Linked DNA regions of Homo sapiens. The protein of the gene in region 1 purifies or fractionates together with the protein of each later gene. This does not show direct contact. Each region holds a gene or a part of one and is shown in the gene's direction. Other genes may lie near its edges.

Evidence for each region.
Region 2: the proteins of D2HGDH (region 1) and IFT140 purify together in Homo sapiens (affinity purification with mass spectrometry; one large-scale study listed by BioGRID and IntAct). This does not show direct contact.
Region 3: the proteins of D2HGDH (region 1) and VPS33A purify together in Homo sapiens (affinity purification with mass spectrometry; one large-scale study listed by BioGRID and IntAct). This does not show direct contact.
Region 4: the proteins of D2HGDH (region 1) and CNOT11 purify together in Homo sapiens (affinity purification with mass spectrometry; one large-scale study listed by BioGRID and IntAct). This does not show direct contact.
Region 5: the proteins of D2HGDH (region 1) and CCZ1 purify together in Homo sapiens (affinity purification with mass spectrometry, with the first as the bait; one large-scale study listed by BioGRID). This does not show direct contact.
Region 6: the proteins of D2HGDH (region 1) and DNAAF5 purify together in Homo sapiens (affinity purification with mass spectrometry; one large-scale study listed by BioGRID and IntAct). This does not show direct contact.
Region 7: the proteins of D2HGDH (region 1) and WDR59 purify together in Homo sapiens (affinity purification with mass spectrometry; one large-scale study listed by BioGRID and IntAct). This does not show direct contact.

The regions. Positions count from the first base shown.
Region 1 is NC_000002.12:241,751,630-241,755,129, forward strand, and holds part of D2HGDH (D-2-hydroxyglutarate dehydrogenase, mitochondrial isoform 1 precursor), read left to right. Parts: intron 1-2,449; coding exon of another isoform or gene 2,450-2,488; exon of another isoform or gene 2,489-2,560; intron 2,561-3,001; coding exon of another isoform or gene 3,002-3,034; exon of another isoform or gene 3,035-3,117; intron 3,118-3,415; exon of another isoform or gene 3,416-3,500.
Region 2 is NC_000016.10:1,605,573-1,609,072, reverse strand, and holds part of IFT140 (intraflagellar transport protein 140 homolog), read left to right. Parts: intron 1-876; exon of another isoform or gene 877-1,014; intron 1,015-1,775; 5' UTR 1,776-1,806; coding exon 1,807-1,953; intron 1,954-3,500. UniProt on the Homo sapiens protein: Component of the IFT complex A (IFT-A), a complex required for retrograde ciliary transport and entry into cilia of G protein-coupled receptors (GPCRs).
Region 3 is NC_000012.12:122,256,495-122,259,994, reverse strand, and holds part of VPS33A (vacuolar protein sorting-associated protein 33A), read left to right. Parts: intron 1-3,500.
Region 4 is NC_000002.12:101,255,886-101,259,385, forward strand, and holds part of CNOT11 (CCR4-NOT transcription complex subunit 11), read left to right. Parts: intron 1-1,905; coding exon 1,906-2,070; intron 2,071-2,929; exon of another isoform or gene 2,930-3,500. UniProt on the Homo sapiens protein: Component of the CCR4-NOT complex which is one of the major cellular mRNA deadenylases and is linked to various cellular processes including bulk mRNA degradation, miRNA-mediated repression, translational repression during translational initiation and general transcription regulation.
Region 5 is NC_000007.14:5,912,233-5,915,732, forward strand, and holds part of CCZ1 (vacuolar fusion protein CCZ1 homolog), read left to right. Parts: intron 1-610; coding exon 611-722; intron 723-3,500. UniProt on the Homo sapiens protein: Acts in concert with MON1A, as a guanine exchange factor (GEF) for RAB7, promotes the exchange of GDP to GTP, converting it from an inactive GDP-bound form into an active GTP-bound form.
Region 6 is NC_000007.14:778,699-782,198, forward strand, and holds part of DNAAF5 (dynein axonemal assembly factor 5), read left to right. Parts: intron 1-1,254; coding exon 1,255-1,446; intron 1,447-3,500. UniProt on the Homo sapiens protein: Cytoplasmic protein involved in the delivery of the dynein machinery to the motile cilium.
Region 7 is NC_000016.10:74,912,124-74,915,623, reverse strand, and holds part of WDR59 (GATOR2 complex protein WDR59), read left to right. Parts: intron 1-3,261; coding exon 3,262-3,426; coding exon of another isoform or gene 3,427-3,477; exon of another isoform or gene 3,478-3,500. UniProt on the Homo sapiens protein: As a component of the GATOR2 complex, functions as an activator of the amino acid-sensing branch of the mTORC1 signaling pathway. The GATOR2 complex indirectly activates mTORC1 through the inhibition of the GATOR1 subcomplex.

The DNA.
Region 1 (3,500 bases):
GCTGTGGGATGAGCAAGGGGACTGCCCCATTGCTGGTCCCCTGCAGCCTGTGGTTAAGCGGCCAGTCAGCGGCAGCTCCGCATAGAGTCGTGTGGAAGGAGTGGAGGCAGGAGGAGCCCCTGGGGCTGTGGAGGCTTAGCCTGGACCTCGGGAGTCCTAGGATGGGCAGTTTTCCTTCCCTAGGAGGAAGGGGCGTTGACTGTGTGACCAGATGATTTGGCCTTTTGAGGCCAAAGGAAGGAGGGGCAAGGCCTGGGCAGGGGGAGCCCTCGGTCACCGTCACCGGGGCCTGGGCAGGGGGAGCCCTCGGTCACCGTCACCGGGGCCTGGGCAGGGGGAGCCCTCGGTCACCGTCACCGGGGCCTGGATAGTGGGAGCCATTGGTCACTGTTACCGGGACCTGGGTGGGAGGAGCCCTCAGTTACCTTCACCGGGGCCTGGGCAGTGGGAGGCGCCCTTGGTCACCGTCACCAGGGCCTGAGCAGTGGGCGCAGGACTTTACTCCCGCTTAGTTGATTTCAGGCTCGTGTTAGCCTGGGTGTTGCCCTTGCCATCTTCCCCCCTCACCTTTGCCGCCTGACTGTCATGATTCCAGTGCTTCTGGGCAAAACGGTGTCTGCTCCCAAGGGCTGGGGTGCGGTCGGCTGGGCTCACTTGTGTGTCCTGATGCCCAGCCCAGGGGCGTCCTCTGGGCGAATGGCAGCTGTGTGGTGCCATCTCTGTTGACTGAGGCATGATCAAGTGTGCGTCCTTCCTAGGTCTCTGCCTGCCATTCCTGCATTTTTCTAAGTGGACTGTGACAGTCAGCTCCCTTACATTCTGCCGCAGTAACAAGCAATCCCCAGGCCCCAGGGACCACACGAACAGAGGCTCACCCTCCCTCGCGTTCCGTGTGGGTGATCGCTGTGGCTGCATGTGCTCCTGTGGCTTCCAGTCCAGGGGCCCGGGCTGAGGCAGCTGCCCAGCCAGTCAGTCTGTTTTCCCAGCAGAAAGAGCAGGACAGCCGCCGGGGATTCTCTCAGCTTCTGCTTGAGATGGGGCGGGAACGTGAGCCCAACTGCCCTTGGTGGTGCGGGTGGGGACCCTCATCCCGCACTGGCTGCTTTGCTGGAGTGGCAGTCAGTCATGCAGCCCCCACACCACCCCCAGGAGGGCGACCCTGGCACCCCAGCCTCCACACATCAGCCCCCATGCCCCCACAAAGGAAGGCTGCCCCCAACACCCCCAACCTCTCTACCAGCCCCCATGCCACCCCCAGGGCGGGCCGTCCTCCATGCCCCCAGCCTCTGCACATCATCCCCCACGCCACCCCCAGGGCGGACTGTCCCCAACGCCCCCAGCCTCTGCACATCAGTCCCCAGCCCCTCCACAGCCTGGTCCAGTCCTAGACCTGTGCCTTGAACATTAATGCCCAGAGCCGGGTTCATGACCAGGACAGGGCCGAATGGGGCTGGTTCTGTGTTCACAAAGTCACCTCCAGACGCTTCCTGGGACGGGTTCAGGAGACGCCTTGTGTGTCTGTCACCTCGTTCTGGCTCATGCTCGACGGGTAGGTAATCTGGCCTTTGTTTTCTGCAGATAGCAAAACGACCCTTTCTTAGGTGTGCGGCTCGATGAGTTGACCCGGATATGCGGTTGTGTGCAGTTGCTCTGAGGCTTTTCTGTGCTGTTGTCCGGTGTTGGCGAGGCTCTGGGCAGGTCCTGAGGCTTTTCTCTGCTGTTGTCCGGTGTTGGCGAGGCTCTGGGCAGGTCTGGGCAGGTCCTGAGGCTTTTCTCTGCTGTTGTCCAGCATTGGCGAGGCTCTGGGCAGGTCCTGAGGCTTTTCTCTGCTGTTGTCCGGTGTTGGCGAGGCTCTGGGCAGGTCCTGAGCCATTCTGCTTTCCACTCTGTGGTCTTTCCCTTCTGGGAGCCCTGGGTTTTTGGACATGTTGAGACAATGGGGCTTGCGCAGGTCCAGCCGCTGCCGCGGGGGCCCTGTGTTCAACGGGGGACACTCAGCCCTGCCCAGGCCCCGCTGTAGCCTCAGCCCACCCGAGTGGAAGCCACACTGGTCGCACCAGATGCCCCGGGCTCCTCTGAGTAGTGACCACGGCGGGTCTCATTGGCACTGCCTATCCACCCGTCACGTGTCATTCAGTTAGCAAACCTGCTAGGGAGATGCCTCCTGTGCCCTGTGCCTGCCGGGCGACAGCAGTGACCAGGGCGGGAGAAGCCTTGCCCCATAAACTCACGCAGCAGAAGGAACAAGCTCAGCCCATGGCCCCTCAGAGCCAGGAAGCGCCGGGGAGGAGGGCAGGGCCAGGCAGGGTCATGGGGTGTGCCGGGGAGTGCCGGGAGGGCCGGAAAGATGACCCTGAGGGGTCATTTCAGCAAAGACGGGGTGTGGGGAGCAGAACGTCTGGTGCAGGAGCACCAAGACCCTGAGGGGCGCGTGCCTGCCATGTTCTAGAACCTTCCAGAGATGGTGGGTGTGGAGCTGAGTGACTGAGGCGTGAGCAGACAAGGGTAGAGCCCATCTTGTGGCCACGGGGACACATGGGGCGGCCGGTCTGATGAGGAGGTAAGAAGGCCTCACAGGCAGCCGATGCCCGCCAGACCATGGAGGCGAAAGCCGGCCTCGCAGCCGTGCCCGTGCGGCTGTGACGAAGGGACCGTAGGAGGGGCTCTTGCTCAGGGCAGGGCGTGACCCAAGGGTCTGATCTGACCGAACTAGCTCTAGAAGTTTGTAAAAGGGGCCGGGCACGGTGGCTCATGCTGTAATCCCAGAGCTTTGGGAGGCTGAAGCAGGAGGATCACTTGAGCCCAGGAGTTTGAGACGAGCCTGGGCAACATCGGGAGACTTCAAAAAAACAAAAAATTGATGGTGGGGAAATGCGGGAATTTTGGGCGCCGGCCGGATTCCCAGTGGTGGCGAGGAGGTGGTATTTTTTTAAGTGTCAGTGTGGCATTGTGGTTGCCTCAATAAAACAGAGTCTTTTTTTGTCTTTTTTTTTTGAGACAGGGTCTCGCTCTCACCCAGGCTGGAGTGCAGTGACACAGTTGCAGCTCACTGCAGCCTCGACCTCCTGGGCTCAAGCAATCCTCCCGCCTCAGCCTCCCGAGTAGCTGAGTCTACAGGTGCCCACCACCAAACCCAGCTGATTTTTATTGTTTTTAAGAGACGGGGTCTCCCTGTGTGGCTCAGGCTGGTCTGAAACTCCTGGGCTCAAGTGATCCTCCTGCCTCAGCCTCCCAAAGCTCTGGGAATACAGGCGTGAGCCACTGCGCCCGGCCAAGTGTTTCTCTTAGAATTTCCTGAAATGATAGGGTCTCTGGAGGGGCAGGTGCTGGGCTTGAGCCCTGGGTAGGACCCTGCAGGGGAGAGGTGGTCCTGCAGCCCACAGAGGATGGCTCTGTCCTGTTCCTCATGGTGCAGATCTCCACAATGGAAGTTCGAAGCAAGCAAAAGCCACGCAAACCACAGGCCGATCTGTCTGAGCCCTAGGATTTGGCCCGGTTCT
Region 2 (3,500 bases), on another chromosome or scaffold:
AGCGATTCTCATGTCTCAGCCTCCTGAGTAGCTGGGATTACAGGCAGGCACCACCACACCCAGCTAATTTTTGTATTTTTTAGTAGAGAAGAGGTTTCATCATGTTGTCCAGGATGGTCTCGATCTTCTGACCTTGTGATCCACCCGCCTCGGCCTCCCAAAGTGCTGGGATTACAGGCATGAGCCACCATGCCTGGCCAAAACTCATTTTAAGAGGTAATCCCAGCTACTTGGGAGACTGAGGCAGGAGGATCACTTGAGCCCAGGAGTTCAAGGCTACAGTGAGCCATGATCACACCACTGCTCTCCAGCCTGGGGGCCCTGTCTCTAAACAATATATATTTTTTAATTTAAAGGTTTCTTTTGCTATTTTAAATTGCCCAGGTTTTGATCTGGAGTGTTTGTTTGTTGTTCGGGTTTCTTTTTTTTTTTTTTTTTTTTGAGGCGGAGTCCTATTCTGTTGCCAGGCTGGAGTACAGTGGCGCGATCTCAGCTTACCGCAACCTCTGCCTCCCAGGTTCAAGTGATTCTCCTGTCTTAGGCTCCGGAGTAGCTGGAATTACAGGTGCCTGCCACCACACCTGGATAACCTTTTGTATTTTTAGTAGAGGCGGGTGGCGTTCGCCATTTTGCCCAGGCTGGTCTCGAACTCCTAAGCTCAGGCAATCTGCCCACCTCGGCCTCCCAAATTGCTAGGATTACAGGCATGAGCCTGTATAATTTTAAATGGTGGCAAACCCGGCTACAAGTATGTTCTTCTCTGCCAGTTAACTTCCCCAAATTGACTGAGGTGTAAAAAAGTGAGCAGTAACCAGACCGTCACTTTATTTATCACCCTAACCCGCCTGAAAAGGGACGATGTGTATATCTTTTCCAGATCTGAAAGGAAGAATGAAAGAGAGAGATTAAGTTCACGTAAGTGATCAAGCTCAACTTCTCACAGCTGCTGCGGCTGTGCATTCTTGACTCTCTAATAGAGGAAGACTTCTGTCTTCTACCACCTGTGAGTCAGAGGTAAAAGACAGTCTTTGATTTTATGCTTTATTGGAAATTCAGTACTGGTTTTTTTTCTGTACCAGTACTCTTTTCTGGAGCAGTTTGCATTTATTTTGTTTGAAAATGTTGTTTAAAAGGCAGTGGTGGCCCACGGCTGTAATCCCAGCACTTTGGGAGGCCAAGGCAGGAGGATTACCTGAGCCAGGGGTTCAAGACCAGCCTGGGCAACATAGTAAAACCTTGTGTCTACACAAATTACTTAAAAATTAGCTGGGCATGGTAGTGCATGTCTGTAGTCCCAGCTACTTGAGAGGCTGAGGTGGGAGGATCACTTGAGCCCAGGAGTTTGAGGCTGCAGTGAGCCGTGATCACACCACTGCACTCCAGCCTGGGTGACAGAGCAAGACTTGGTCTAAAAAGTTAAAGGGAACTACAGAAATAGAACTTGTCCTTATTGTGACTGGAATGAAAGTTACTGAGGATTGCGTGTGTAGTTAGGCTGCAGGCCTTTTCTTTCTTTCCTCCTTTGATGGCCATGAGTTGTATTCGTTTCTGTCACAGCCTGGGTGATTCCGGGTCTAACTGCTTCTCTTCTGCATGTCTCCCTGTTGGAGATCTCCTCGCATCAGGTTGCCTGCTCAGTCCGCAAGGCATTTTCAAGTTGCCGATGGTCTTCCGATGGTGGCTTTGGGATGCTTCCTTTTCGTCATTCCATGTACAGTCATATTGTTTGTTTTATTTAAAACTGATTGGACTTGGTCATTTTTTTTTCCCTGCAGGTTTCAGCGCTGAGGAGGCCTGAGTTCCGTCATGGCCCTCTATTATGACCACCAGATAGAAGCCCCGGATGCAGCAGGGTCACCCTCATTTATCAGCTGGCACCCTGTCCATCCATTCTTGGCAGTTGCTTACATCAGCACAACCTCAACAGGCAGCGTGGATATTTACCTGGAGCAAGTGAGTGCTCAGAAGCAAGGAGCCTGACTGTGGTAGCTTCTGGCTCATGTTGTTTGTGTTGCTGTTGTCCTTGTGTGTGTGCACATGTGTGTGTGTGCCTATGGGTGTGTGTGTGTATACATGCATCTGTGTGTGCGTGTATGTGTATTGGTGTGTGTATGCGCATATGTATGTCTGCATCTGTGTGTGTGTGCGCACACGTGGGTGTGTGCATATGGGTGTGTGTGTGCATCTGTATGCTTGTATGTGGGGGGGTGTATGCGTGTGTGTGCACACGTGTGTGTGTGTGCGTGTGGTGCGTGTGTGTATTTTCAAACGAACTCTACTCTAGCTTATTCATGAAGAAAACGACATCTATGAGGCCAGGCGCAGTGGCTCACGCCTGTAATCCCAGCACTTTGGGAGGCCGAGGTGGGTGGATCACTTGAGGTTAGGGGTTCGAGACCAGCCTGATCAACATGGAGAAACCCCATCTCTACTAAAAATACAAAATTAGCCGGGCATGGTGGCTCATGCTTGTAATCCCAGCTACTCGGGAGGCTGAGGCAGGAGAATCGCTTGAACCCAGGAGGCAGGGGTTGCAGTGAGCGGCGATCACGCCATTGCGCTCCAGCCTGGGCAACAAAAGCAAAACTCTGTCTCAGAAAAGAAAAAAAAGAAAACGACATCCGTCATCAGTTTTCACAGAGGCCAAATCCCAGGGTTATAAAAGCCCTAGTATGTGGGCAGTTCTTTCACGCTGGCTATTTTGGTGGCTTGGGGACATGTTTAGGAATCCTTCATGCTTATCAGCATTAAGCCACTATCAGTTCACAGTCATCACCAGAAATGTCCCCACAGTGCTGTTTGTGGATCCTGAGGCATCTTCCTCTGTCAGTGCCCTCCTGCACGCTCCATAGGGGCCATTTGGAACTCTAATCATTTCCACAAACTGGGTGGCTTTAAACAACAGGAAGGTATTCTGGCAGCTCTGGAGGCGAGAACTCCAAAATCAGGTGTCAGCAGGGCCCGCTGGCTCTGAAGGCTGAGGGGAGTGTCTGCCCCGAGCTGCTGTCCTGCTCCTGCTGTTCCCAGCAAGCCTTGGTGCTCCCTGGCTGGCAGATGCGCTGCTCCAGCCCTGCCTCTGGTGTCATCCGGCCTTCCCTTCTGTATGTCTGCGTCTCTTCTCCTCTTCCTAAAAGGACATCAGGCATATGTAACTAGGGCCTGCTCTAATGACCTCACCTGAGCTTACCCACATCTGCAAAGACCCTGTTTCCAAAGGACGCCATGTCACAAGGACCAGGGATAGGACTTCCACATATCTTTGTGGGGACACAATTCACCCCCTAACAGAAACGTTCCCCAAGCTCCTCAGACTTCGATAATCACCCTCTCGGTGCCCAGTGCACCTCATATTCCATAAAGAAAATGAGGTGCCAGGTGCGGTGGCTCACGCCTGTAATCCCAACACTTTGGGAGGCCGGGGTGGGTGGATCATGAGGTCAGGAGATCAAGACCATCCTGGCTAACACGGTGAAACCCCGTCTCCACTAAAAATACAAGAA
Region 3 (3,500 bases), on another chromosome or scaffold:
AATACCTCACTGCAGCCTTGACCTCCTAGGCTTGAACGAATTTTCAGCCTCAGCCTTTTGAGTAGCTGGAACTACAGGCATGTGCCGCCACACCTGGCTAATTTTTTTTTAATTTCTTTTTTTTTCTATTTTTATTTTTTGGAGAGACAGCGTCTTATTATGTTGTCCAGGCTGGTTTTGAACTTATTCTGGAGATTTTTTAGAAATGAAATTCTATAATACATAAATGGTCCTTTGTGTCTGGCATCTTCACTTAGTGTAATGTTTTGAGGGTTCACCCAGGTTGAAGCCTGCGCGAGGCCTTCATTCCTTCTTATTGCTGAATAGTATTCCATTGTAATGATATTATCATTCATCAGCTGATGGACACCTGATGGGTTGTTTCCACTTTTTGGCTGTCACGATACTGTGAATATTGTGAAAAGTTTTTATGTGGATGTATGGTTTCATTTCTCTTAGATATACCTAGGAGTAGAGACTGGGCGTGGTGGCTCACGCCTGTGATCCTAGCACTTTGGGAGGCTGAGGTGGATGGATCACTTGAGGTTGGGAGTTCAAGACCAGCCTGACCAACATGGAGAAATCCCGTCTCTACTAAAAATACAAAATTAGCCAGGCATGATGGCGCATGCCTGTAATCCCAGCTACTTGGGAGGCTGAGGCGGGAGAATTGCTTGAACCTGGGAGGTGGAGGTTACAGTGAGCTGAGATCACGCCATTGCACTCCAGCCTGGGCAACAAGAGTGAAACTCTGTCTCAAAAATACATACATACATACATACATACATACATACATACATACATACACACATACATACACACACACACACCCCTAGGAGTAGAATTGCTGAGTTGTGGTAACTCTGCATTTAACATTTGGAGGAGCTGCCAAACTCTTTTGCACTGAAGCTGTACCGTTTGTACTCCCAGCAGCAGTGTGGGAGGGTTCCAGTTGTATATCCACATGGACAGACTTATTATTCTGTCTTTTTTTTTTTTTTTTTTTTTGAGATGGATTGTCACTTTGTCACCCAGCCTGGAGTACAGTGGTGCGATCTCGATCTTGGCACACTGCAACCTCGGCCTCCCAGGCTCAAGCAATTCTCCCGCCTCAGCTTCCTGAGTAGATGGGATTACAAGCATGCACCACCACGCCTGGCTAGTTTTTGTATTTTTAGTGGAGATGGGGTTTCGCCATGTTGGTCAGGCTGGTCTTGAACTCCTGACCTCAGGTGATCCACCTATCTCAGCCTCCCAAAGTGCTGCGATTACAGGCGTGAGCCACCATGCCTGGCCTGTTATTCTTTGAATTTAGTCATCCTACTGAGTATGAAGTGGTGTCTCATTGTAGTTTTTATTTGCATTTCCATAATGACTAAGGATGTTGATCATCTTTTCTTGTGCCTGTTGGCCTTTGTCTTCAGCTAAACAAATGTCTGTTCAGATCACTTGCCCATTTTTAAAATTGGGTTCTGTCATTTTTATTACAGAATTGTAAGAATTCTTAATAGATTCTAAATGCAAGTCTCTCCTCAGATACATGATTTCCAAGTATTTTCTTTTGTTCTGTGAGTTCTTTTCACTTTCTTGGTGAGATTGGTGTCGTTCGATGCACTAAAGTTTTAAATTTTGGTGAAGTCTCTTTTATCCAGTTTTTCTCTTGTTACTTGTGCTTTCAGTATCATCTCTGAGAAGCCATTGCCTACCCCAGGATCACAAAGATTCACTCTGATGTTTCCTTCTAAGAGTTCTATAATTTTTTATTTTTTAAAGAGACAGGTCTCACTATGTTGCCCAGGCTGGTCTCACACTCCTGAGCTCAGGCAATCCTCCCGCCTCAGCCTCCCAAAGTGCTGGGATTACAGGTGTGACCCACCGCGCCCAGCTTATAATTTTTCTACATCTTATGTTTAGGTCTTCAACCCATTTTAAGTTAATTCTGTATGTAATGCAAGGTGGGTGTCCAAATTTCATTTTTTACACATGGATATCTATTTGTTCCAGCACTATTTGTTGAAAAGACTGTATTTTCCTCATTGAATTGTTTTGGTACCCTTGTCAAAAATCAATTGTCCACAAATGTAAGGGTCTGTTTTTGGTCTTTTAGTTCTGTTTCACTGATCTATATGTCTGTATGTCCGTCCTTATGCCAGTACTACACTGTCTTGATTACAGTAGCTTTGCCATAAGCTTTGAAATCAGAAGTGTGAGTCCTTCACCCTAAAGCAGGTAAATATATCACTTTTGTTCTTTTAGATTGTGCTTTTTGAGTCTTCATAAATCTTCCACTCTGCAGACAAAGAAGAAAATCTTTTTTTTTTTGAGATGGAGTCTCACACTGTCACCCAGGCTGGAGTGCACTGGTGTAATCTCAGCTCACTGCAACCTTCACCTCCCAGGTTCAAGCAGTTCTCCTGCCTCAGCCTCCCAAGTAACTAGGATTACAGGCACACACCACCACGCCCAGCTAATTTTTTTGTGTATTAGTAGAGACGGGGTTTCACCGTGTTGTCCAGCCTCCTGAGCTTCCACCTGCGCCCGGCCCTTTTTTTTTTTTTTTTTTTTTTTGAGGCAGAGTCTCACTCTGTTGCCCAGGCTGGAGTGCAGTGGCACAGTCTCGACTCACTGCAACCTCCGCCTTCTGGGTTCAAGCAGTTCTCTTGCCTCAGCCTCTCAAGTAGCTGGGATTACAGGCATCCACCACCACGCCCGCCTAATTTTTGTATTTTTAGTAGAGACGGGATTTTACCATGTTGCCCAGACTGATCTCGATGTCCTGACCTCAGATGATCCACCTGCCTCGGCCTCTGAAAGTGCTGGAATTACAGGCGTGAGCCACTGTGCCTGGCCTGAAGCTACTTTTTACCCCAGTTCTCAGACTGCCCCTTATCCCAGAAGCAATCACTATTTCTCTTTTAATTTGGGGTGGGGGGATATTATATGCAGCTACAGCTCATAGTATATAATCCCTCCCCACTTTTGTACAAGTAGTAGCATATGATATATATACTTTGGTATGTTGCGTTATTCTCTTAATAATATCTCTGAGTCATTTTCTACCACGTATGGCAATACTTGTTTATTCTCATTTGAAGCTGCATAGAGTTCCATTGTTTGGATGTACATAATGTATTAAATCAGCTTTCTGTTGGAGAGCATTTTTTTCCTCTCTACGCTGTTGGAGGCAGTGCTGCCGAGAATGAGCCTGTTTGTAGGCCCCTCTGCACATGCGCCCTTTGTAGGCTGCGTTCGCCTTTGTCATTTCTTTTGACATTGCTTCTGGTAATTTTGGCTGTGTGTATGTTTTTAACATAATCACACTTACCCATGTTTCTTTGATTTATGAGTTTATGATGCTGCTGCTGCTGGTGCCGCTGCTGCTGCTCTGGAGACTAGAACTTTTTTTTTTTTAATTGTTTTTGAGACAGATTCTCACTCAGTCACCCAGGCTGGGATGCAGTGGCACAATCTCGTCTCACCGCAACTTCCACCTCCCCAGT
Region 4 (3,500 bases), about 140 Mb from region 1:
CCAGCACTTTGGGAGGCCAAGGCAGGCAGATCACTTGAGGCCAGGAGTTGGAAGCCAGCCTGGCCAACATGACGAAACCCCATCTCTACCAAAAAATACAAAAATTAGCCCGGCATGATGGTGCACTCCTGTAATCCCAGCTACTCAGGAGTCTGAGGCAGGAGAATTGCTTGAACCTGGGAGGCGGAGGCTGTAGTGAGCTGAGATCGCGCCACTGCACTCCAGCCTGAGCAACAGAGTGAGACTGCCTCAAAAAAAAAAAAAATAGTGTAGAAGTTGAGGGATTTTGTGCAACCGGGGTGTAGGGTACATGGATGGGAGAGAAGGTCAAGAAGTGAGATTAGGAAGGTGTGGTGGGACCAGATTTTGAAGGGTCTTGTAATGGTGTAGAAATCTGGGTTTAATTCTGTGTACACAGGTTAAGTAATGTGATCAGATTTGTACTCTAGAGATATAACTAAATGGTAAGAGGAAGTATGGACTATGGGTGGTGGGTGAGCAGGGGTCAAAACTGGGAGCTGGGGAAGTCAGTAGAGGGGGCAGGAGTAGTCCCAGCAAGAGAGGCGTGGGGACTACATCTGAGGGAATGCAGCCTGGTGACATTTCTGCAGTGGGAGAGATGAGGCTTCATGAGCAATTAAACATGGGACAAAAGGGAAGGAACATTCAGCCTTGTGGGAATTTGTAGCTGCATTGTGTGTTGAATCAGGTAGTGTATTTGGATAGCTGCTGGTTGCTCTTCTATTTATTCAACTTCTACACAGTGGAAACAGAGAAGAAAGAAAAGCATTTCCGAGCACTATAGTGTTGTCTGTTTTTGTTTGCATATATAAGCTTTAGCCTTTGCAGGAATTGAGGCACTTTAGAAAATGCAGTTATTGGGCCAGGCGTGGTGGCTCACGCCTGTAATCCCAGCACTTTGGGAGGCCGAGGTGGGTGGATCTCGAGGTCAGGAGATCAAGACCATCCTGGCTAACACGGTGAAACCCTGTCTTTACTAAAAAGTACAAAAAATTACCTGGGCGTGGTGGCGGGCGCCTGTAGTCCCAGCTACTCGGGAGCCAGAGGCAGGAGAATGGCGTGAACCCAGGAGGCAGAGCTTGCAGTGAGCCGAGATTGCACCACTGCACTCCAGCCTGGGCGACAGAGCGAGATTCCATCTCAAAAAAAAAAAGAAAAGAAAATGAAGTTACTAATGTGAGAGTTAAAGAGGAAAGAAACACCAGGCGGGGCACGGTGACTCATGCCTGTAATCCCAGCACTTTGGGAGGCTGAGGCGAGTGGATCACCTGAGGTCAGGAGTTCAAGACCAGCCTGGCCAACATGGTGAAACCCCGACTCGACTAAAAATACAAACATTAGCTGGGCATGGTGGCAGGTGCCTGTAATCCCAGCTACTTGGGAGGCTGAGGCAGGAGAATCTCTTGAACCCGGGAGGTGGAGGTTGCAGTGAGCCAAGATCATGCCATCACACTGCAGCCTGGGAGACAAGAGTGAGACTTCATCTCAAAAAAAAAAAAAAAGCCACAAAACGCAGCTTGGCAGTCAAAGACAGATTTTCTTTAGTTAGAACCTGAGAAGCACTCCTGGCCGATGTTTTAACTAAAGAAAACCTGTCTTTGACTGCCAGGCTGCGTTTTGTGTTTCTTTCCTCTTTCTTTAACTCTTACAGTTAACAAGTACAAAAACCTTAAGTTTCATTTGTAGGGCCACAGATCATAGAATTTCAAATGACATATTACATAGTTTGTAAATGTATATATTTGGTTGACTGAAACTTAATCATAATTTAGTTCTTAAAACTATGTGGCTTGAAGTGGCAAGTAGCAAGTACTGATTTTACCAGATTCAAGTTGATTTTTAAAAGTAACCATTGGAGAAATCGTTATACATTTTTGTTTGCAGGATTTTTACCTCCTATAACTCCACCAGAAAAGTTTTTTCTTTCCCAGCTGATGCTGGCACCCCCACGGGAACTCTTCAAAAAGACGCCTCGCCAGATTGCACTGATGGACGTTGGAAACATGGGCCAGTCTGTGGACATTAGTGGGCTTCAGTTAGCCTTGGCCGGTAAGGAGGAATCAGTGTTTTGGGCATTTCTGTGTGGTAATATTAGGCCTCTCTTGTTGAGGACTCTACTAAAATGATGTTTTTTGTAACTGCTAAAAGGTTAGTATCATCCATTTTAAAAAGTAGTTTTAGTACTGGATCTTAAATGGAAGTCTTGGCTGGGCACGGTGGCTCACACCTGTAATCCCAGCACTTTGGGAGGCTGAGGTGGGCAGATCATTTGAGGTCAGGAGTTTGAGACTAGCCTGGCCAGCATGGTGAAACCCTGTCTCTACTAAATATACAAAAAATTAGCCAGACATGGTGGTGCAGCACGCCTGTAATCCCAGCTACTCAGGAGGCTGAGACAGGAGAATAGCTTGAACCCGGGAGGTGGAGGTTGCAGTGAGCTGAGAACAAACCACTGCACTCCAGCCTGGGCTACAGTGAGACTCCATCTCAATAAATAAATAAATAAATAAATAAATAAATAAATAAATAAATGGAACTCTTTAAATTTTTGGATGCTAATAGCATGTAAATTCATTTGGAGTTTTCACTTGAATTGATTGCTTTTTCTGTTTTAGAAGAAAGCTGGATAAAATTTAGTGGGTTTTTTTTTAAGTTTTGATTGGAAGACTTACTATTTGTTAAAATGTCAATACTACCCAAAACAATCAACAGATTTGGTGCAATTCCTGTCAAAATTCCAACAGTGTTTTTTGCAGAAATAGAAAAATCCGGCCAGTCACAGTGGCTCACACCTGTAATTGGGAGGCTGAGGCACAAGAATCACTTGAACCTGGGAGCTGGAGGTTGCAGTGAGCTGAGATTGTGCAACTGCACTTCAGCCTGGGTGACAGGGCGAGAGTCTGTCTCAAAAAAAAAAAAAAAAAGAAAAATCCATCTTTAAACCAAAGAAAGGCTGGCATAGTAGCTCATGCCTGTAATCTTTGGGAGAGGCCAAAGTGGGAGGATCGTTTGAGGGCAGGAGTTCAAGACTAGCCTGGGCAACATAAGGAAACTTTGTCTCTGCAAATAATTAAAAACTTAGCCGGGCGTGGTGGTGCATGCCTGTGGTCTCAATTACTTGGGAGGCTTAAGTGGGAGAATCACTTGAGCCTGGGAGATCGAGGCTGCAGTGAGCTGTGATTGCGCCACTGCACTCCAGCCTGCACAATATCGTGAGACCTGTCTCGGGATGCTGAATAGCCAAAACCCAACGTTCTCTTGGCATCCTTGTTGAAAATCATTTGCCCATATATGCAAGGGTTTATTTCTGGGCTTTCTATTCCATTCTATTTGTCTATATGTCTGTCTTTCTGCCAGTACCACACTGTTTTGATTACTGTAGCTTTGTACTAAGTTTTGAAATCGGGAGGTATGAGACTTTCAACTTTGTTCTCGTTCAGGATTGTTCTGGCACATTCTGTGTTAAACCTGTAAGCAAA
Region 5 (3,500 bases), on another chromosome or scaffold:
CAGGTGTGATCCACCATGCGTGGCCTATTATCTTTTTGGTAAAGATAATATGGACATTGAAATATCTTTGTGCCATCTGATTGACAGTAATCAACAAAGGAAAGTTTGTTGTTTCCAATGAGTTAAAACTTACTTCAGCATACCCTTTTTTTTTTTTTTTTTTTTTTTTTTTTTTTTTGAGATGGAGTGTCTCTCTGTCGCTCAGGCTGGAGTGTGGAGTACAGTGGCACGATCTCAGCTCACTGCAGCCTCCATCTCCTAGGTTCAAGCAATTCCCCTGCCTCAGCCTCTTGAGTAGCTGGGATTGCAGGTGCCCACCACCACGACCAGCTAATTTTTGTAGTTTTAGTAGAGACGAGGTTTTGCCATGTTGGCCAGGCTGCCCTTGAACTCCTGACTTCAGGTGATCCACCCAGCTCAGCCTCCCAAAGTGCTGGGATTACAGGCATGAGCCACCACGCCCAGCCAGCATATTCTGATATGGTGTTTGCCAAATAGCACCTGGCATCAAAAGCAACTGGTGTGTATGAAGTGGGAGTGTGTTCTGTTTCTAGATTCCTGATTCTCCTTCACCTCGTTGAATCAAGTCATGTCTGTTCTTGCTTTTAAGATTTCTTACCGGACCCTTGAACCTCAATGATCCAGATGCAAAATGCAGATTCCCCAAAATTTTTGTAAATACAGATGACACTTATGAAGAGCTCCATTTAATCGTTTATAAGGTAACAACTGTTTTCCTTCCAGCGTTAATGATTGTGCTGAAGTGGATCTTTCTTGCATGTGTACACGAGTGCATGTGCAAACCTCTTAAATGTTTCTTGGAAAAGATATTGGAAGTTCTGATTATGGTAAAACTCAAAATGGGTGTTCTTCCAGCGTAATAAGTTTATTTTCAGCTCCTTTTAAACAGTTTTGTTATTAGTGAAAGAGGAACTGTTTAAGATTGTGATTTATAAACGTGTGAAGTCTCACGTGCTCTCAAACCAAAGGCTGTCAGAGGTTGGTGCTGCCTGTTCTCGAAATGGCTCTGGATGGGGGCCGTAGCCACGTGTCTGTGCATATGCTGCTTTTGCTCTGATTTTAAAGCTGTAGGCTTGCTAATTCCATAAGGATTGTATTTTGTTTCTGTCAGGACATGGTCTTGTAAGGATATGTACTCAGGTTGTGTTTCTAATTAAAGGCAGTTTTTGATTCAAGAAAGAAGACGGAGCATGTGCACGTGTTTCTCCTCTTTCCTGCCTGAGGCTGTGGAGAAGTTTTCATTTATAAAGGCTCAGAAATGATGCCGTGGGGGAACAGGAAGGAGCGGGATGTGTCAGGATGAGGGAGTCCTGTCCCTCTCTGGAAGGTAGACGGGACTTGTAAACCATGCCTGATAGAGGGCGGTGCCGGAGCAGGCCTGGAATATGAGTGGCAACCCTGTGCTAAGGCAAGGACCCACAGCCCTGTGGAAGCCCAGAGAGGCTCCTGACTTGGAGGAGGTCACCTGAGGAGTCAGAGTGGGGCCTGGGCCTGGAAAGGTGGGGAAGGGAAGTGAAGTGTGGCAGAGAGGCCAGTCAGCCTCCCCTTCCCCCATCCTTGCACAGACAGGCCCACAGCTGAGCATCCATCCCTGGGTGACAATCGAGGGTCTGTTTAAAGAAAGGAAACAGTCTGAAGAGACCCAGAGTGGCTAACGTGGATGTCTGCCCCTGAGAATGAGGCCCTGCTCATTCTGGCATTTCTTTCTCCCAGACAGAACTGAGACCTTCATCCTACACTCAGAGTGAAGCCTCCATCTCTGGTCAGCCTTCTGGTTCCCTCATTGTTAAATATGGCTGCAAAAACAAAACTAGAGGTCTCGAAAGAAACATGATTCCGAGGACAGACAAGAACTTTAAAAATTAGTATCCACTAATTAGAAGAGTTGTATCTATTAATATAAAATTGAAATGGGCCAGGTGCAGTCCCAGCACTTTGGGAGGCCAAGGTGGGAGGATCACTTGAGGCCAGGAGTTGGAGGCCAGCCTGGGCAACATAGTAAGACCCTGTGTCGACAGGAAAATGTTTAAAAATTAGCCAGGCATGGCAGTGCTCATGTGTAGTCCCAGCTACTCAGGAGGCTGAGGCAGGAGAACCGCTTGAGCCCAAGAGTTGGAGGCTGCAATGAGCTATGATCACACCACTGCATTCTAGCCTGGGTGACAGAGTGAAACCCTCTCAAAAATAATGAAACTGGTATCAACAGTTTCATATCCAGCACCAGACATTATGTGACAGTGGAAGAGAGACTTTCAAAGTTCTGAGAGAAAATGAATTTGAGCGTAGAGTTCTTTGCCATGCCAAGCTGTCAACCACAGATAAGACAAAAGAAAGACATTAGCCAGGGCATGGTGGCTCATGCCTATATCCCAACACTTTGGGAGGCCAAGGTGGGCGGATCACCTGAGGTCTGGAGTTCGAGACCAGCCTGGCCAACATGGGGAAACCCTGTCTCTACTAAAAATACAAAAAATCAGCCAGGCGAGGTGGCACACGCCTCTAATCCCAGCTACTCCGGAGGCTGAGGCAGGAGAATCACTTGTACCCGCGAGGCGGAGGTTGCAGTGAGCTGAGCTTACGCCACTGTGCTCCAGTCTGGGCAACAGAGCAAGACTCTGTCTCAGAAAGAAAAAAAAAACACGTTCAACATGAAAAGCCTCAAAAAGTTTACCGTCATGCACCTTTCCTGAGGGTGTTACACAGGGTCATCCGTCAGCAGAATAAGTGAGCACACCAAGAAGGAACACTTGGGAATCCAGAACAGTAGTTCTCATGTGTGAGACGGTACAAGGAAATCTTGGGGTGATAAGGCTCTTCAGGTCTGCTGGCGGCACCCCACCTCCAGCAGCTCCGTGACAGCAGGAGGAGGGAGGGCTCTAGGGTTCAAGCCGCCAAGATAAAAAGATGTTTCATTCATCACATGGTGTGCTTGAGAGTCACTTAAAGTTGGGCTGTGACAGACTGGCAGGGAAGGGGAGATTGCAGGAAGAGCATACAGAAAGATGTGGTCTGAAAAAGCAAACCAAAATGTTGGAGGTGTAATTCAGAGCAGGAATTGGAGTAGGAAGAATGTCCGTTTGTGTATCGAGTGAAAGTTTGAGACCCCATCTCAAGAAAAAAATCATCCTCCTTTGAATGACCCAGGTAATGGCTGAAATCTCCATAACCCTGGTGTGTAATATGCTGTCGGCTGCATTTCTATTTTTAGAGTCAATCTACAGACATATTGTGGGGTGTGATGATGGGATTGTGGCTATGTTAAAGGGTCCTTACCTTTTTCTTAATGACTTTGAGATACAATGCACGTACCATACAACTCACCCTCGTACACTTAAAATGTACAGTTCAGTGATTTCTAGTTGCAAAGTTCATGAGTCTCCAAGACCATCCTCACTTCTGACACCCACTGCGAGTTTGGGAGTCCCCGTGACCACCTTTAGGGTAAGAGTTCTCTAGAAGTACTACAGGACTCAGAAAAG
Region 6 (3,500 bases), on another chromosome or scaffold:
CTGACTCCGTCCTTCCTCCTGAGACACGTGCAGCGAGGGCACCCACTGTGCAGCGAGGGCTCCCGCCGTGCAGTGAGCATACCCCCTGTGCAGTGAGGGCACCTGCCGTGCAGTGAGCATACCCCCCATGCAGCAAAAGCACCCCCCATGCAGCGAGGGCTCCCGCTGTGCAGTGAGCATACCCGCTGTGCAGTGAGGGCACCTGCCGTGCAGGGCTGCTTCAGGGTTTGGCACCATAATGCCTGGATGTGCTCCGTGGCTTCCTCCTTGGTGCCTGTGTTTGGTGGCTGGAAGGCCCAGCACCCTCAGGGCCCAGAACCCTCAGGGAAGTGCCTGGGCATCTGCCAGGAATTAACCCACTGGGTCCCACTTGTCTCAAAGCCTGGCTTGGTAGGATGGCCTGAACTTTGGATGTTTTTCATGCCTTTCGTTACATAGGATCCTCTTGCTGAGGGTGGATCATGCCCTCCACATTGCAAAAGCATCAGAGACCCAGCCCACCCTCGCGTCTGCAGCGGGAAGATGGGCCTGGTGCCAGGCGCGGGCAGCCGCCCCTCCCAGCGTCGGGAAGATGGGCCTCATGCCAGGCATGGGCAGCTGCCCCTCCCAGCGTCGGGAAGATGGGCCTCCGGGTGGTTTTGCGACTCAGTCATCTGCGAATTTCCGGATGCTGCACAGAAGGGGGTGCCAAAGTTTTTTTAAGATGATGTAAAAAAAGCATAAATTTGATAAAAATTATGTCCATTAACCTCATAAGTTTCTACCCATCGGGAAGGATCATCCTTCTGTTTTCAGCAGCAGAAAACTGACCACAGTAGGGGGTTGTCTGTCACTGAGTCCTCAGCTCTGGTGGGAGGGCAGGGTCAGAGCTGGGCAGGGTGGCCAGCTCGGGGATCTGAGCATCTGGGAGCAGGAGGTGGAGGGCCAGGTGAGCACACAGCTGCGAGGAGGTGGAGGACCAGGTGAGCACACAGCTACAGCTACAGGGAGGCTCTGCGCCTGCAGGACAGGTTATTACAGGGGCCGCAGCAGGGCCTGGGCCGCCTCCACTCTGTTGGCTGGGGTTCAGGGGTCCCAGGTCGCCAGGAGCACCTTGCATGTGGCTCGGGATGCACGGAGTCTCCCGTGAGGTGTGGGTTTCTTAGGACCCCAGGGCAGGTGTCCCATGGGAGTATGAACTAAATGCCTTTGTGGACGTTTAGACGTGAAATGTCTGCTCTAGACTCACACACCTGTCTCGCTCCCTCCTTCCAGAACTCTTAAAACGCCTAGATGACGTGTCCAACGATGTGAGGATGGCAGCCGCCTCCACCTTGGTCACCTGGCTGCAGTGTGTCAAGGGTGCCAACGCAAAATCCTACTATCAGAGCAGTGTCCAGTACCTGTACCGAGAGTTGCTGGTTCACCTTGACGATCCAGAGAGGGCCATCCAGGATGCAATTTTAGGTGAGACTCCGACGGCTTGGCCTTCGTTCCGATGCCTGCTTTCGGCGCCTGCCACGGGCATCTGTAGCTGAGCCGTGTGACCGGCCACAGGGCCCTGGGGCACAGGAGGGGCCTCAGCTCCGGCCTGGCACACTCTTGAGTTCTTGGCAAACCCTGAGAGCGGCTGTCTTTGTGGTGATAGCTGCTGACATTTCCTCTAACAGAAATCAAAACTGAGAGTATTCTAGAATACTTGTTAGTTGTTTAAAATAACAATAGTAAGCCCAGTATATATTGACACAGATGGCTTGTGTTTTTGAAAAATACTTTCCAAAACAAAATCATCTGCAAGAACGATTTTTGCAAATGTCTTAAATGTGTAGCTTGATGGAAGACACTGGACTTTCACATCTTCCATACAGTCAGTCATGATGTGTATGGCTCTGGCTGAAATACGTGGAAAATAATCTGGCCTCGCCTGTGGCTTCAAGTGTAGTTGGACAAAAGAAGAGTATTTTAGTAGCCTTTTCAGATAGGCGTGGGACTTCTTCAATACCACGCCAACAGCGACACAGGCCGTCCCTTGAAGGTCACTCACAGCACAGGGCCTGAGGCCACACACCACAGAGCCTTCCACGCTCAGTGCATTAAAATCCGCTGGTCCATCTCACACTTGGAATGTAACGATTTGCTTTTTTTTTTCTTTTTTTTTTTTTTGTTTTGTTTTGTTGTTGGTGAATATAATGACGTTGTTCTTTTTTTTAATAAAATTTGTATTTTTAATTTTTGTGGGTACACATAGGTGTATATAAGGCATGTGTGATACTGTGATACAGGCATGCAGTGTGTGTAAATCACATTGGGGAAATGGGGTCCCCGTCACTTCAAACACTTACACTTTCTTTGTGTTACAAATAATTCAGTGATACTTTTCGTTATGTTTAAATGTGTGATAAATTATTGTTGACCATAGTCACCCTGTTGTGCTATCAAATACTAAATCTTACTCATTCTGTTTTTGTACTCATTAACCATCCCCACCTCTTCCCCCGGCCCCATTCCTCTTCCGAGCCTCTGGGAGCCATCCTTCTGCTCTATCTCCATGAGTTGAATTATTTTTATTTTTAGTTCCCACAAATGAGAATGTGCGGAATTTGCCCTTCTGTGCCTGACTTATTTCACTTAACATAGCGACCTCCACTTCCCTCCATGTTGATCCAATGACTGGATCTCATTTCTTTTGTGGCCGGATAATATTCCACTGCGTGCGCTCCACGTTTTCCTTCTCCCTTCATCTGTCCGTGGACACCCCGGTTGCTTCCACACCTTGGCTGTCGGAACAGTGGGGCATTCGGCGTGCGCGTGCAGCTCTCCCCCATAGCTGAATTCCTCTCTTTTGGGTATTTGCCCAGAAGTGGGATTGCCGGGCTGTATGGGGCTCTATTTTTAGTTTTGGAGGGACCTCCAGACTGTTCTCCCAGCGGTGCTCATTTACATTCCCACCAGCAGCGTGAGGGTTCCCTTGTCTCCACATCCGCGCCGGGACTTGTTTCCGCAGCCATTTTAACTGGGGTCAGAGGATGTCTCACTTGTTTCTATGTGCATTTCTCTGAGGAGCGGTGGTGGTGGGCACCTTTTCAGACGCCTGTTTGTCATTTCCATGCTGTCTTTTGAGAGCTGTCTGTTCAGGTCTTTTACCCATTTTTAATTGGATTATTAGATTGTCTGCTATTGAGCCTGAGCTCCTCATATATTCCAGTGATTAATCCTTGTCAGGCGGCGGTTCTAAGATACAGTCTCCCATCCCGTACCCGCGGGCTGTCCCTGCGGCTGTACTCTGCTCATTCTTCCCTTTGCTGTGTGGAAGCTTTGGGCCTGGATGTGCTGACTTTGCCTTTTGCCTCCTTTGGAAAATACTTAGACCTTCCCCGCGCAGCTGCGTCCGGTTTCCCGGCGTGGCTACATCCGGTTATGCGATGTCGGATCTTCCTGGTGTGGCCGCCTCCCGTCGCGCAGCGTCAGAAACTCGGATCTTCGCGGCGTGGCCGCCTCCCGACACGCGGCGTCAGAAACTC
Region 7 (3,500 bases), on another chromosome or scaffold:
GCCAACATGGTGAAACCCTGTCTCCACTTAAAAAAAAAAAAAAAAATTAGCCTGTAATTCCAACTACTCGAGAGGCTGAGGCACAGGAATCACTTGAACTTGAGAAGCAGAGGTTGCAGTGAGCCAAGATCGCACCACTGTCCTCCAGCCTGGGTGACAGAGCAAGACTCTGTCTCAAAAAAAATAAATAAAATAATTAAATAAATAAATAAATAAATAAGTAAATAAAGAGATGCAGACTTTCTTTCTACCCCTATTCTTTTCTCCTAAGATGAGCCAAAGGAGAACCTGATGCTCGTGTGCCTTAGCTCCTCCTTAGATGCTCCAGCATCTCATTTTACTGTAGAGGAAGATACTTAGGCCCTGGAGGCTTAGTGATTTGGCAGAGGTTGCTGCTGAAGTTGGGGACAGAGTTGACTTGGGAAGCCAAACCTCCAGCCCGTCCAGGGCACTCTGTGCTGTGCTGTGCTGTGCTGTGCTGGGCTGTGCCATCTTCTCTCACAGGCTGGCCATTTCCTGGTAATTTAGATTCACAGTAAGAAGGCAACCAAAACTTCTTTGTTTGCTTAGCCTGTGGAACAGTTACTTTTTTGGGGGCAAGTATTGAAAGTCTTTGCTTCAGAAAATTGAGTATCTCTCCAGAAAGGAGTTTTAAAGCTTGATTAGTTTTTCCTTTACCCAAATATGTGCTGTTACATAACTATCTCATGTGGCTTTTAAAACAAGTCTGCTGGCCAGGTGCGGTAGCTCACGCCTGTAATTCCAGCACTTTGGGAGGCCAAGGTAGACGGATCACAAGGTGAAGAGATCGACACCTTCTTGGCCAACATGGTAAAACCCCGTCTATACTAAAAATACAAAAATTAGCTGGTCATGGTGGCGTGCGCCTGTAGTCCCGGCTATTCACGAGGCTGAGGCAGGAGAATCGCTTGAACCCAGGAGGCAGAGCTTGCAGTGAGGCCGAGATCACACCACTACACTCCAGCCTGGCGACAGAGCAAGACTCCGTCTCGAAAAAAAAAAAAAAAATAGTCTGCTGTAAGTGGTTTTAGCCTCACTTTACAGCTGAGGAAACGGAGACATCAAGAGAAGAAATGTCCAAGGTCAGCAGCTATTTGGTGGAAGAAACAACATGTGAATCCAGGTCTCCAGATTTGCCACATGTGGTTCTTTTCTCTTTACTCCAGCTGCTGTCTCTAGTTGGCAACACAAGAAATGAAAAGATATAAAGGATTCTTTGCTTAATTAGTGATCTATATCAAGTCAGTTTATACTCCCTTTGTCCCATTTGAGGACAGTGTGGATACCTAGTGATCTAGTTTAAGATCTTGATTCCTTTCTTCGAGAGTACTTTAAAAAAATTATTGAGATATAATTCACACAGTATAAAGTTCATCTTTTTTTTTTTATTGAGATGGAGCCTTGCTCTGTCCGCTCAGACTGGAGTGCAGTGGTGCTACCGTGACTCACTGCAGGCTCTGCCTCTCGGGTTCACGCGATTCTCCTGCCTCAGCTTCCCAGATAGCTGGGATTATGGGCGCACGCCACCACGCTCAGCTAATTTTTTTTCGTATTTTTAGTAGAGATGGGGTTTTTGCCATGTTGGCCAGGTTGGCCTCGAACTCCTGATGTCAGTTGATCTGCCCACCTTGGCCTCCCAAAGTGCTGGGATTACAGGCGTGAGCCACTGTGCCCAGCCAAAATTCCGCTTTTTAAAGTATATAATCTGGCTGTTGTGGGTATATTCACAAAGTTGTACAGCCATTACCATTGTCTGATTCCAGAACATATTCATCATTCCCAGAAGAAACCCCATACCCATGAGCAGTCACTCCCTATTTCCCCTTCCCTCAGCCCGTGGCAATCCCGAATCTACTTTCTTCCCCTATGGATTTTCCCAGGAGCACTTTTTAAGTTGAGTCTGGTATTTAACTTCTTCCTGCTTTATTTTCCCATCTCAAAGTAAATATAACAAGTTTCAGTCTACCCCACAGCTTTGGGAGGGAGGAAGCTTTGTTAAAGTCAGAATACTTTGAACTTCGTGGTGGCTCATGCCTGTAATCCCAGCACTTTAGGAGGCCAAGGTGGGTGGATCACTGGAGGTCAGGAGTTTGAGACCAGCCTGGCCAACATGGCGAAACCCCATCTCTACCAAAACACAAAAAGCAAAACAACAACAACAACAACAAAACAAAGATTTGCTGGGCATGGTGGCCTGTAGTCCCAGTATTTGGGAGGTTGAGGTGGGAGAATCACTTGAACCCAGAAGGTGGAGGTTGCAGTGAGCTGAGATTGTGCCACACTGCACTCCAGCCTGGGTGACAAAGTGAGACCCTGTCTCAAAAAAAAAAAAAAAGAATACTTTGTGTTGGGAACAGGCCCCCTGAAATCTGGCCATAAACTGACCCTCTGTGTTGTTTGTCTTTGTGTAGTCTGCAGATGTGGATCTTGACTCCTGCAAGAAGTAGCTCACCGTGACAAAGCTGCCTTTGCTTTTATCACTTTGCAAATCAAAGAAGGGGGACATGTTGGGAACAGGCCCCCCCCCCCCCCAAAATCTAGCCATAAACTGGCCCCAAAACTGGCCATAAAGTCTCTGCAGCACTGTGACATGTTCATGATGGTGGTGATGCCCACGCTGGAAGGCTGTGGGTTTACCGGAATGAGGGCAAGGAACACCTGGCCCACCCAGGGCAGAAAACCGCTTAAACACGTTCTTAAACCACAAACAATAGCATAAGCAATCTGTGCCTTAAAGACATACTCCTGCTGCAGATAGCTAGCCACAGCCCATCCCTTTATTTCAGCCCATCCCTTTGTTTCCCATAAGGAATACTTTTAGTTAATCTATAATCTATAGAAACAATGCTTATCACTGGCTTGCTGTGGATAAATACATGGGTAAATCTTTGTTCAAGGCTCTCAGCTCTGAAGGCTGTGAGACCCCTGATTTCCCACTCCACACCTCTATATTTCTGTGTGTGTGTCTTTAATTCTTCTGGCACTGCTGGTTTAGGGTCACCCCGACCGAGCTGGTCTCAGCAACTTTGAGCTTATTCCATTGGTTTGAAAATTTTAAGAATCTGGTATGAAAATTTAAGAATCTTTTTGAAAATGAATTGTCTTCCACACACATTTGTCTTTGTAGACTCTTTCCCTTCATTCAATTACCAGGAACATGGAGCGTTCAGTTAAATGTGCTTGCATCGAAAGACGCTTTATGGTTTGTTTCTACAGCAATTGTGGATTTGTCTCTTGCAGATGGATGCGGCAGACAGGAGCTGCACAGTGTCTGTGCACTGCAGCAACCATCGTGTCAAGATGCTGGTGAAGTTCCCTGCACAGTACCCAAACAACGCCGCCCCTTCCTTCCAGTTTATTAACCCCACAACCATCACATCCACCATGAAAGCTAAGCTGCTGAAGGTGGGGGTCTGGGTTCCCAAATTCTCCTTGCTGTTCTGCATCATTGTCTAGATGGATTAGTAAAGAAGAATGAA